Linked DNA regions of Homo sapiens: all the other regions are linked to region 2. The links come from fine-mapping of genetic effects on gene expression. A gene starts in region 2. Each other region holds a variant in brackets. All regions are shown on one strand. Distances are between the middles of the regions. Region 1 overlaps LINC00400 (long intergenic non-protein coding RNA 400). Region 2 holds the start of DNAJC15 (DnaJ heat shock protein family (Hsp40) member C15). Region 3 overlaps DNAJC15 (DnaJ heat shock protein family (Hsp40) member C15). Region 4 overlaps DGKH (diacylglycerol kinase eta).

Evidence for each region. PIP is the estimated chance that this variant, and not a neighbour inherited with it, causes the effect. A credible set is the group of variants that fine-mapping cannot tell apart.
Region 1: its variant is the best candidate, but not a certain one, in a credible set for the expression of DNAJC15 in subcutaneous fat (FUSION, PIP 0.57).
Region 3: its variant is the best candidate, but not a certain one, in a credible set for the expression of DNAJC15 in whole blood (INTERVAL, PIP 0.63).
Region 4: its variant is the best candidate, but not a certain one, in a credible set for the expression of DNAJC15 in uterus (GTEx, PIP 0.79).

Annotation. Positions count from the first base shown.
Region 1 is chr13:43,119,508-43,122,100 of GRCh38, forward strand. The region is part of intron 1 of LINC00400 (long intergenic non-protein coding RNA 400); the gene reads left to right. Among named protein-coding and RNA genes, the nearest start is that of LINC00400, 7.6 kb to the left of the region's middle. RefSeq lists an enhancer at 1-411. The variant C/T (reference allele first, on the strand shown) is at 1,088.
Region 2 is chr13:43,022,249-43,024,841 of GRCh38, forward strand. DNAJC15 (DnaJ heat shock protein family (Hsp40) member C15) reads left to right here and starts at 1,338. Exons shown (of 6, transcript NM_013238.3): 1 at 1,338-1,486. The coding sequence starts at 1,379. RefSeq lists enhancers at 1,157-1,216, 1,227-1,276, 1,787-1,836.
Region 3 is chr13:43,047,765-43,050,357 of GRCh38, forward strand. The region is part of intron 1 of DNAJC15 (DnaJ heat shock protein family (Hsp40) member C15); the gene reads left to right. Among named protein-coding and RNA genes, the nearest start is that of DNAJC15, 25 kb to the left of the region's middle. The variant G/C (reference allele first, on the strand shown) is at 1,041.
Region 4 is chr13:42,062,449-42,065,041 of GRCh38, forward strand. All of the region lies in intron 1 of DGKH (diacylglycerol kinase eta), which reads left to right. Among named protein-coding and RNA genes, the nearest start is that of DGKH, 15 kb to the left of the region's middle. The variant C/T (reference allele first, on the strand shown) is at 1,262.

The sequences.
Region 1 (2,593 bases), 97 kb after region 2:
AACTGAGGGCAAATCACTCTGAGGGCTTTTCTTCTGCCACAGCACTTTTATACAAGCGAAACAGAAAAAAAGGGCAGCCTGGAGAAAGATTATGATCAAAGCAGGCAGCTTAAAGAGTGATGGTAAGGAAAGGGGAAAGGAGACAGCCAAACGGGGTGGTGAGAACCAGCCTGCACCCGCACATCTGACTGTGAAGGCTCTCTGACTTTCAGTGCAACTGTCCAAAGTGATCGTCTCTTTCACCCGCTCAGAAGTCAAGGACTGGGAGACTCATTATTTTGAATAGAGTTTCCCCGAATCATTATTGGGAAGTTCAAGTGTGGTCCCAGGATCAGCAGTGCAGCATCATCGGAGAGCTGGTCAGAAATGCAGAATCTCAGACCCTGCCACAGACCTGCTGAGTCAGAATCTCGAGTGGTGGAGCCTAGGAATACGCATTTTAACAAATTCACAAGTGAGCATGATTGAGAAGCACTGCTGTGTATAGTGAAAATAGAGCAAACTTTAGGGGCAAACAGCACTTTTGAGTTTGAGCCCTGGCTCTTTCACTTACTGTGTGATCTTTGAAAGGTTGCTTAACTCCTCTGAACTCGTGTTTCCTCATTTGTAAATTGGGGATACAAAGATTTACCTTAATAATGGAGTCCAAGGAAATTGTGAATGAAATAGAGGGGGGTCTTTGGACTTGGATTGGAAAAAAAATCATTTTTGTTTTTCACAAATTTCTAACTAAAATTTAGCATTTTCTTTTATTATGAATGTCAGCAACATTTGTTAGCAGCCTGTGACTTTGTCACCAGAACAAGCCACACATATTTCTTTTTCTATTTCTTTCTTTTTTTTTTTTGAGACAGAGTCTCGCTCTGTCGCCCAGGCTGGAGTGCAGCGGCACAATTTCGGCTCACTGCAAGCTCTGCCTCCCGGGTTCACGCCATTCTCCTGCCTCAGCCTCCCGAGTAGCTGGGACTACAGGTGCCCGCCACCACGCCTGGCTAATTTTTTGTATTTTTAGTAGAGACGGGGTTTCACTGTGTTAGCCAGGATGGTCTCGATCTCCTGACCTTGTGATTCGCCCACCTCAGCCTCC[C/T]AAAGTGCTGGGATTACAGGCGTGAGCCACTGCGCCCCTATATTACATTACAGTTGTTACAGATAACTCCAAATATCATTTGTATTCATCCAGTTCAAAATTACAGTTGCTTTTAAACTTGCCGCTAGATATTTAATGCATTAGTAATGAGGCACATACACCATGATATCACAAATGTTTTTTAATTTTATAAAAACTGCATTTTGAATTAATTGGTTTCCTTTATAATTTTTTTTATACGCAGTTGAAAACATTATTTGACGAGAGGTCCATAGACTCATGGCACAAAACACTTTCAAAAGCCCTCCCTGCCTGGAAAGTTGTTGTGATGATTTAGTGATGGAATCAAATGTGTCCAGCACTTTTTAGTGATTCAAATAACAGTGCCCTGATTGTCCTCCCCAACATTGTCACGTCTTGCTTTGTGCTAAGCCTGGGCCAAAGATTCTCTAGACTTTCCTGGGGGTGTGTGAGAATACACACTGTCTGGTCAACTTTCCCTGCAGGCATTTCTCTGGCTAATCCTGGTTTTATGGAATGAGAGCTGTTGTGTGTTGAGTGCCTGCTCTTTGCCAGATTGGTGAAGTATGCTGCCTTGAATCACATGGCCAGTTAAGTGGGAAAGCAGGTGGGTGGTCTCCATGCTGCCATGTATATTCCTGGGTGGAGCTAAGTCCAGATGTTGGCGGACAGACTAAGGACTCCTGCATCCTCCTAGTTCAAGAAGATGACAGAAGGGCTATCAGTGAAATCACTAAGCACCTACAATCTCTTAGTTCTTGTACATTCAATAAGCATTAATTAAGCACTTACTATGTGCCTGGCCCTATGCTAGTCACTGGGATACGCAGCTGGATAGGCCGTGAGCCTTGGCTCTAAGAAGACTCTATGGGCCCTGGGAGCAGAGAAGGGTATCCCCTAAACCAGTGGGGCAGAGGTGGGGACTGAAACAAGGTTCCCCTGAGCAGGTGGTTAATTTGTCAAATTGGCTGGGCACTGTAATGCCCCGGTGTTTGGTCAAACATTATTCTGGATGTTTCTGTGGGGTGTTTTTGGATGAGATTAACATTCTAATGGGAGGACTTTAAGTAAAGCAGATTGCCCGCCATAATGTGGGTGGGCCTTATCCAGTCAGTCAAAGACTTTCATAGGACAAATACTGACCTCCTCCAAGCAAGAAGGAATTCTGCCAGCAGACAGCCTTCCGACTTCAGCTGCAGCGTGACTTCTTCCCTGGGTCTCCAGCCTGGTGACCCACCTGGCAGATTTTCAACTTTCCAGCCTCTATAACCTCCTGAGCAAATCTCTTAAAATGGATCTCCCCTTCTATCTGCACCTCCCATTGATTCTGTTTCTCTGGAGTGCCCTAATACAAAGTCCAACTGGCTATATTCATTTGTGATTATGCTCCTATGTGCTTTACTTTTTATTTGATTATGTCTCATTACACAGTTCCTGTCCTGGGGTTCTGGGCCCCTGAGGGATTTTCATTTTATTACATAGACC
Region 2 (2,593 bases):
CTGTGTCAGTGTTATCTTCCCTACAAGATTGTAAATTTCTAGGACCTAACTTCTTAGACATGCTAATAATATTAACTAAGTGAACAAATTAATAGACCCTCAAAACTTTAAATTCAGGAATAGAAAAAAAATAAAGCTTTTTCTTCCTGTCAGCTGATTTTGCAAAGGGTATAAGGAGCCAAAGAGCTGCCACGTTGGTACAGAAGTTGGAAAACACCATACGCTTCAACTGCTGGTTAATTTTTGCTCTAAAAACTTGATGGAGGCCAGGCGCGGTGACTCACGCCTGTAATCTCAGCACTTTGGGAGGCTGAAGCGGGCGGATCACCTGAGGTCAGGAGTTTGAGACCAGCCTGGCCAACATGGTGAAACCTCGTCTCTACTAAAAATACACAAATTAGCCAGGTGTGGTGGCACGTGCCTTTAATCCCAGGTACTCGGGAGGCAGAGGGTGCAGTGAGCCAGAGATTGCGCCACTGCACTCAGCCTGGGCAACAGAGCGAGACTCCATCTCAAAAAAAAAAAAAAGCTTAATAATAAAATGGGCTTTTATATATACAAATCAGCACAAACTCATTTGAGGGAGAGTAAGATTTACCTACTTGCTCACAACTTTTTTTCCCCTGCCTCAGGCTCCTGAGTAGCTGGGATTACAGGGACGCACCACCACACCCAGCTAATCTTTGTATTTTTAGTAGAGACGAGGTTTCACCATGTCGGCCAAGCTGGTGTGATCCACCCGCCTCGGTCTCCCAAAGTGCTGGGATTACAGCGTGAGCCACCGCACCCGGCCACAACTTTCTTCTGTGTAATTTCACCTTAAATACAGCCATTTACTTGGGGGTGGAGTAAGCAAATTGCCTCTTTAATTTCTCTCCCGGGGTGGTAGAACTGTGGCATTAAACAGAAGTGCGAACAGAAGTTGAGAGTGGGAAGAAAGGCTGCCCGGAAGGGGGTCAGGAAAGCTCAGGCAAGCCCACCCTCAGGCACTACAGCTAGACTCCGAGCTTACTGGGCAGTCATCTGATTCGACCAACATCAGTTCGCAGGGCTTAAGCCCAGTCCCTTACGGCGGCCTGGGGAGGGACCAGGCCCAAGTATATAAAGCTCCCTGAGGGTCCGCGTTGGCTTTGCGCCTGTGAGTGTGATTCAAGAACGTCCCAGTGCCCTTGGCTCCTTTCGGAGTGTGACCCCGTGCTTGCACGGGACACGTTACCCAGCTCGGGTGAGAAGGGTATCTTCCGGGAACCTCGCCTTTAATAGCACAACGAGCGCAGAGTCCACTGGATCTGCGAGAAGAAACCGCGCTAACTAGTTTGTCCCTACGGCCGCCTCGTAGTCACTGCCGCGGCGCCTTGAGTCTCCGGGCCGCCTTGCCATGGCTGCCCGTGGTGTCATCGCTCCAGTTGGCGAGAGTTTGCGCTACGCTGAGTACTTGCAGCCCTCGGCCAAACGGCCAGACGCCGACGTCGACCAGCAGAGACTGGTGAGTCCTGCCAGCGGCCCCCACCCCTCTCTGGCTCCCTTGTAGTTTCTGCTTCAGCCCCCTCTACCGCCTCACCCTTGAACCTTTGTACTCCCCCGCATTCGCTCACGGTCTGTGCCCTAGCGCTCACTTGTTCAGTGGAGAGACCGCTTTGTGCTGGGCTTTGACGCCTGGGCGTGGAAGACGGAGCAGTTCTGAGGATCTGTCTCCTCAAGGAGCTTCCAGTCTTGTCTGGGACACAAACCAGAAAACAGGCAATTGCAAATACAGTAAAATAAGTGCTGTATGTGGATTTTCCTATCTCATAGGAGGCCCTAAAAACGTCTTGCAGGGGACGTGGTGGGATCAGGGACGCTTCTTGGAGAAAGCTGTAGTTAAAAATTAAGATCTGAATGAATAAAAACAGTCCATTCAGCAAGGAGAAGGGGAAAAAGTGTTTCGGGTACCAGGACTACTGTCTCCAAAGTCTCCGGCACAGAAACAGGGCCCAGTTGGAAACTCCAAGTGGTGTATTCAGGATGAACTGTAGAGCTGGAAAAAGGAAGGGTCTAACAGAAAACTGTCCAACAGAAGCATATTGTGAGCCACATACGTATTTTTACGTTTTTTTTTTTTTTTTTTTTTTTTGAGACGGAGTCTCGCTCTGTCGCCCAGGCTGGAGTGCAGTGGCGCGATCTCGGCTCACTGCAAGCTCCGCCTCCCGGTTTCAGGCCATTCTCCTGCCTCAGCCTCCCAAGTAGCTGGGACTACAGGCGCCTGCCACCACTCCCGGCTAATTTTTTGTATTTTTAGTAGAGACGGGGGTTTCACCGTGTTAGCCAGGATGGTCTCGATCTGCTTACCTCGTGATCCGCCCGCCTCGGCCTCCCAAAGTGCTGGGATTACAGGCGTGAGCCACCGCGTCCGGCATATTTTTAAGTTTTTTGTAGCCATATTAAACAACTGAAGAGAAACAGGTGGGTTTGATTTTAACCATGTATTTTCTTTAACCTGATATATGCACAGTTGCATGGTAATTTTCAACATTCAATATGAAATATTGCCCAAGTGGTGGTTTAGGCTTGTAATCCCAGCGCTTTAGGAAGCCCAGGCAGGAGGATCACTTGA
Region 3 (2,593 bases), 26 kb after region 2:
TTGCTGCATGGATGAAAAACTTGAAGGCTTATTTAGAAAGTAAAAGTTTAGTACGAGCCATGAGGAATGGGAAAGGGTACTAATTAATGATGAGGAAGATGATGGTACAGAGTAGGCTTGAAGGGCCAGCGGGCATCAGAAACCATAACTGTGTAATGATGCTATTTAGTGAGAACATAAGATTTTTCTTTAGCTAGACCTAGCAGTCTAGGATGAGGATTCTCTGTGGTAACTCTGCCACCATTTTGAAACCATTCGATTTCACTGACAATTTGCCATCTGTTGCTTTCTGCAGTGCTATTATGCATATGCCTGGAAGTTTTTAAATCCAAAATATTCATGCATTGTATATGGTCAGAGAGAATGCAGTGAAAGCTATGCTTTTTGTAATTTTTGACAAGTGTACTCTAAAGTAATGAATTTTAAAAACTTAGGCCGGGTGCATTGGCTTACGCCTATTATCCCAGCACTTTGGGAGGCCAAGGCAGGTGGATCACCTGAGGTCAGGAGTTCAAGACCAGCCTGACCAAAATGGAGAAACCTCGTCTCTACTAAAAATACAAAAAAAAAAAAAAAAATTACCCGGGTATGGTGGCTCATGCCTGTAATCCCAGCTACTGGGGAGGCTGAGGCAGGAGAATCGTTTGAACCCGGGAGGCGGAGGTTGTGGTGAGCCGAGATTGCGCCATTGCGCTCTGGCTTGGGCAACAAGAGCAAAACTCTGTCTCAAAAATAAACAAAAAACAAAAAGCTTAAATACCCTTGTCCCATATCACATAAATTTGTTTTTTGAATATATATCATCTTTTTTTCCCCCATGGTGACCATGACAGATTATTAAAAACTAAATTTCTAAATTTGATGTAAGTAGAATGTTAGGTTTTTGGTTTTTCTTACATAGAGACCACTGTTCCCAAACATTATGCTGGACCAGTTGTAAAAGAATTTTTTTGGTGGCATTTGTAACTGATTTCATTTTTAAGTATATATGTGCATATATTTATAGAAAGATCAGCTTGTTCTATAAGTAGAAGTATGTG[G/C]TACCCTAATTTTGTGTAACAACAACAAAAATATATCCAATAATTAGATTTTCTGCAGGCCTAGAAAATGTTAGCTACTTTTTTAAGCCATAAACGTCTGAATCGTCAGATAAAATGTTTCAAAACTAAAACTTGCCCAAGGCAGCCTTGTGAATTTTTTTTTAAAGAATTAAAAAAAAAGCCTCATATGGCATCCATATTCATCATCTACTGCTACATATGTGTGACACTTACGGCAGTTTTAGCCTATACTAGGGTACAGGAATATACTTACTTTTTTAAATCATACTTCCTGATTTCTTTTATTTTCATATCCCAATTTTTCCTAAGTCAAAGAAACAGCAACATTTCTGTTTCTGCAGAATTTAACCTGGTTATTGCCTAGTTGGTAGAAAATGACTGTAGTTGTGGTACCAACACTATGCCTGATTCACCATTTTACTATTATATTGTCTTTTCAATGTCATTTTTTCTCATTCTGTTACTGGCAGTTTAGTTTTAAAGCATCATTGTTTAAAAAACATTCAAAATAAAAGTCGAAATACATCTTCATGTTTACAACTGGATCAGATATGGTGTTGTGCATATAAAAGAAACAAAATACAGATCCTCTTAGCCCAAGGATATGATACTGAAGTTTAGTAAACGAGAAATAGCATAGTGATGAAAGCATGCTAATTGTTTTTCAACAATAGTAAAATAGAGAACATGTTAATGGAATTATCTGATATTTACACAGTTATGCCAAGTAAACCATAGGTTATTCAGAAACCCCAGTGTGTTTTAGATGTTATTTTATTTTTAAAATTAAAGCCAAAGAAAGGTATGGTCAGGAGTTCTGTGTTGAGTTACTTACTTAGACTTAGATTGACTCCCTTTCTCTTATACTTCTGTTTTCTACATTTGAAACTAGTTTCTTTTTCCTGTTTGAGTCATTCATATATGTGGAAGTTTGAGGAGAATTGTTACTGTTTTACAGCTCACAAAATCTGTGTCTGAAAAGAAATACCAATGGCTTTTTAGCAAATAAAAAAATGTTAGGTAGTAGATAAATTTTTTTCTAGGAAACAATTCATATTATTCTGGGCCAGTTAAAGTTTTGTTTGTTTGTTTGTTTTATTTTATTTGTTTGAGACAGAGTCTTGCTCTGTGGCCCAGGCTGGAGTGCAATGGCATGATAATCGGCACACTGCAACTTCCACTTCCCAGGTTCAAGCAGTTCTCCTGCCTCAGCCTTTTGAGTAGCTGGGGCTACAGGCACCTGCCAACACACCTGGCTAATTTTTTGTATTTTTAGTAGAGACGGGGTTTTGTCATGTTGGCCAGGCTGGTCTCGAATTCCTGACCTCAGGTGATCCACCTGCCTCAGCCTCCCAAAGTGCTGGGATTACAGGCATGAGCCACTCTGCCCGGCCAGTTTTAATTGCTTGTAAATCTAACAGCCTTACTATTTCCACAGGAAACTTTATAAGTACTTTTATTCTTTCCTTTAAAATTTTAAAAAATTTTTTAGTTTTTTTGAGACAGGGTCTCACTCTGTCACCAAGCTGAAG
Region 4 (2,593 bases), 960 kb before region 2:
AGTTGTAAATTTGATCCCGGGTAGCCAGAGCAGCAAGACCAGTTATAAAGTCGTATTACCAGCGGGAAAAAAGCCCTCTAGATTTTAAGGGGGAAAAGCTTTTCTAGCTTTCCTTGGGGGAACCAAAGAAATATGTTCTATCAGTCTTTGATGTGGGTGGGAGTGAGGTCTGCAATATGTTCCCCTCACCTACATCCACTTGGGAGGTGTCCTTATGATGTCCTCCCTTGTGAGGTCAGGACATAATCCAGACTTCAACTTTGTGTGACAGTAGTTCTGTAGGAGATGTAATTAAGGCAGTTTTAGTTACGGCCAACTTCAGGCATAAAATCCAAATTATTTTTGAAGATTGAATAAATGGCATGTACTTGAAACAGTTCTCGGGTTAAACCAGGTATCTGCTGAAATACTTTCAAAGTGTAGAATCTCAGGTTATCTGCGTTTTTATTTATCTGTTCACTTGTAGTTGATACAAGGGGATGGAGTGATATGTTCTTAGCTATTATGGGAAGAAAAATCTGGTATTTCTTGGTGGCTCTCATAAAAACTGGTAAAATGATTCTACATTCAGGTTTAAAAAATGTTCTTTGGAGCTTTATGAGTGCATTGCAGAATATTAAAAGCTGTGTGTATTTTAGGATTATTGTGAAAATAGTGTTGACTTCATGGACCTTTGAAAAAGGTCTTGGGAACACTTGAAAATCCTGCTAGGGCAATGTATCTGGACCTATTTTTTTTTTTGAAGAGAGTGCCATGAGGATATCTGGAGGAAGAGCAGAGCAAGCTGAAAGAACAGCAAATGCAAAGGTTTTGAGGAAGAGACACACCTGACACATTCCAGGGATGAGCATTCCCGAACAGCTGACACATTCCAGCTGGTGGGAAGGGAGTGAGGGGAAAGTGAGTAGCAGGAAAAAAAGTCAGACATCAGGGGAGCAGTAGAGAGGTTGCTGTGACAATTTCCTTGACAGTTTAGCACAGTGGTTAGCACATAATTAGCACTTAATAGATGCTAGTTACCATATTAATATTAAAAGAATACTATTGCCGATCCATTAGCAAGTTTGATCTTTAAAATCAGCATCTAAAACAAACCCTTTAAACGAGAGGAGGGAAAAAATGAAGCAGTGGCTGGAGAGGGATGCTGGGGTCAAGCTACAGCTTTTTTAAAAAAGTGAAATGACTTTTTTAGGAGAAAGACTGTGGGCTGGCCGGATGTGGTGGCTCACGCCTGTCATCCCAGCGCTTTGGGAAGCTGAGG[C/T]GGGTGGGTCACCTGAGGTCAGGAGTTCGAGACCAGCCTGACCAACATGGAGAAACCCCGTCTCTATTAAAAATACAAAATTAGCCGGGCTTGTTGGCGCATGCATGTAATCCCAGCTAGTCGGGAGGCTGAGGCAAGAGAATCTCTTGAACCTGGAAGGCGGAGGTTGTGGTGAGCTGAGATCGCACCATTGCACTCCAGCCTGGGCAACAAGAGCAAAACTCCGTCTGAAAAAAAAAATATATATATATATATACTGTGGGCTGAGGAGAATAATCTAGCTGAGAGAAAAGATTAAATGATGCAAAAAAAGAGAGGAGAATTACTGGAGCAATGTCCTTATATATGCGAGATGGGGTGGGATGGCGTGAGGAGCTGGGCTTCCCTCAGAGCAGGTCAGTTTATCCATACAAGCCACTTTATCCATAAAATGCAGTAGGGGCAGAGGTTGGCACTTCTAGAAATTATTTTCTGATTATTTTGATTTTCCCAGTGGAATATGAAGTTAGGTCGTCAGCTGAGAATCAAGATGGAGAGGGTATGGAGGTCTGAGGCTAGAGGAAAGGTATGAAATGCTTGAACAGGGGCGTGGGAAAGGGAATAGACTAGAGAAATGCAGCAGTGTGAATATCAAGTTGCATTTAGGGCACACCTGAGCCGGGTGACCAGGACTCTAAGCGCTGTCAGCCTGGTGTGGGATCATGTTCAGCTGCTTGGGTGCAGTAAGTGAAGTGGAGGACAGGGTCAAACCACTGTTGCGGTTTGTCTGTGTGTGCCAGGAAAAGCGTGGGTGGATACAGTAACAAGCTCTGGAAATGATGTTGGATGAAGAGTGAGGGCTCGAGTCAGGTCCTAGGGAGTAACCATGGGACTGAGCAGCTGAGGTAGGAAGGAAGAGAAGACTGTTGGCAGAGGTTAAGTCCAAGAATTAAACTTTAATCATTCAAATTTAAAAAAGGAAAGAAAGAAAAGAAAGAGTACTAAAAGAAACTGTATAATTTTAATGATTTTAGATATGCATTAGAGATGCGTTAATAACAGGTTTTGCTGGGGAAAATCTCTAGCTCATGTATGCACAGCTGGGGGCCCTCTTTAGTAAAATACAAAGACCGTTTTACTTAGAACACAAAAAGAAAGTATCCTAAAGAAAGAAATAAATCTGATTTGGATTTTTTTTTTTAAATTTACAAATGAAACCCTGAAATGCATTGAAGAACACGAGTCCCAGTTTGAGTTCCTATTAGGCAAGTTATATAACCTCTTCAAACCTTACTTTTCCTCATATGTAAACGTTCATAAGGATATTCTGAGGATTAAGGAGATAAAACCTTC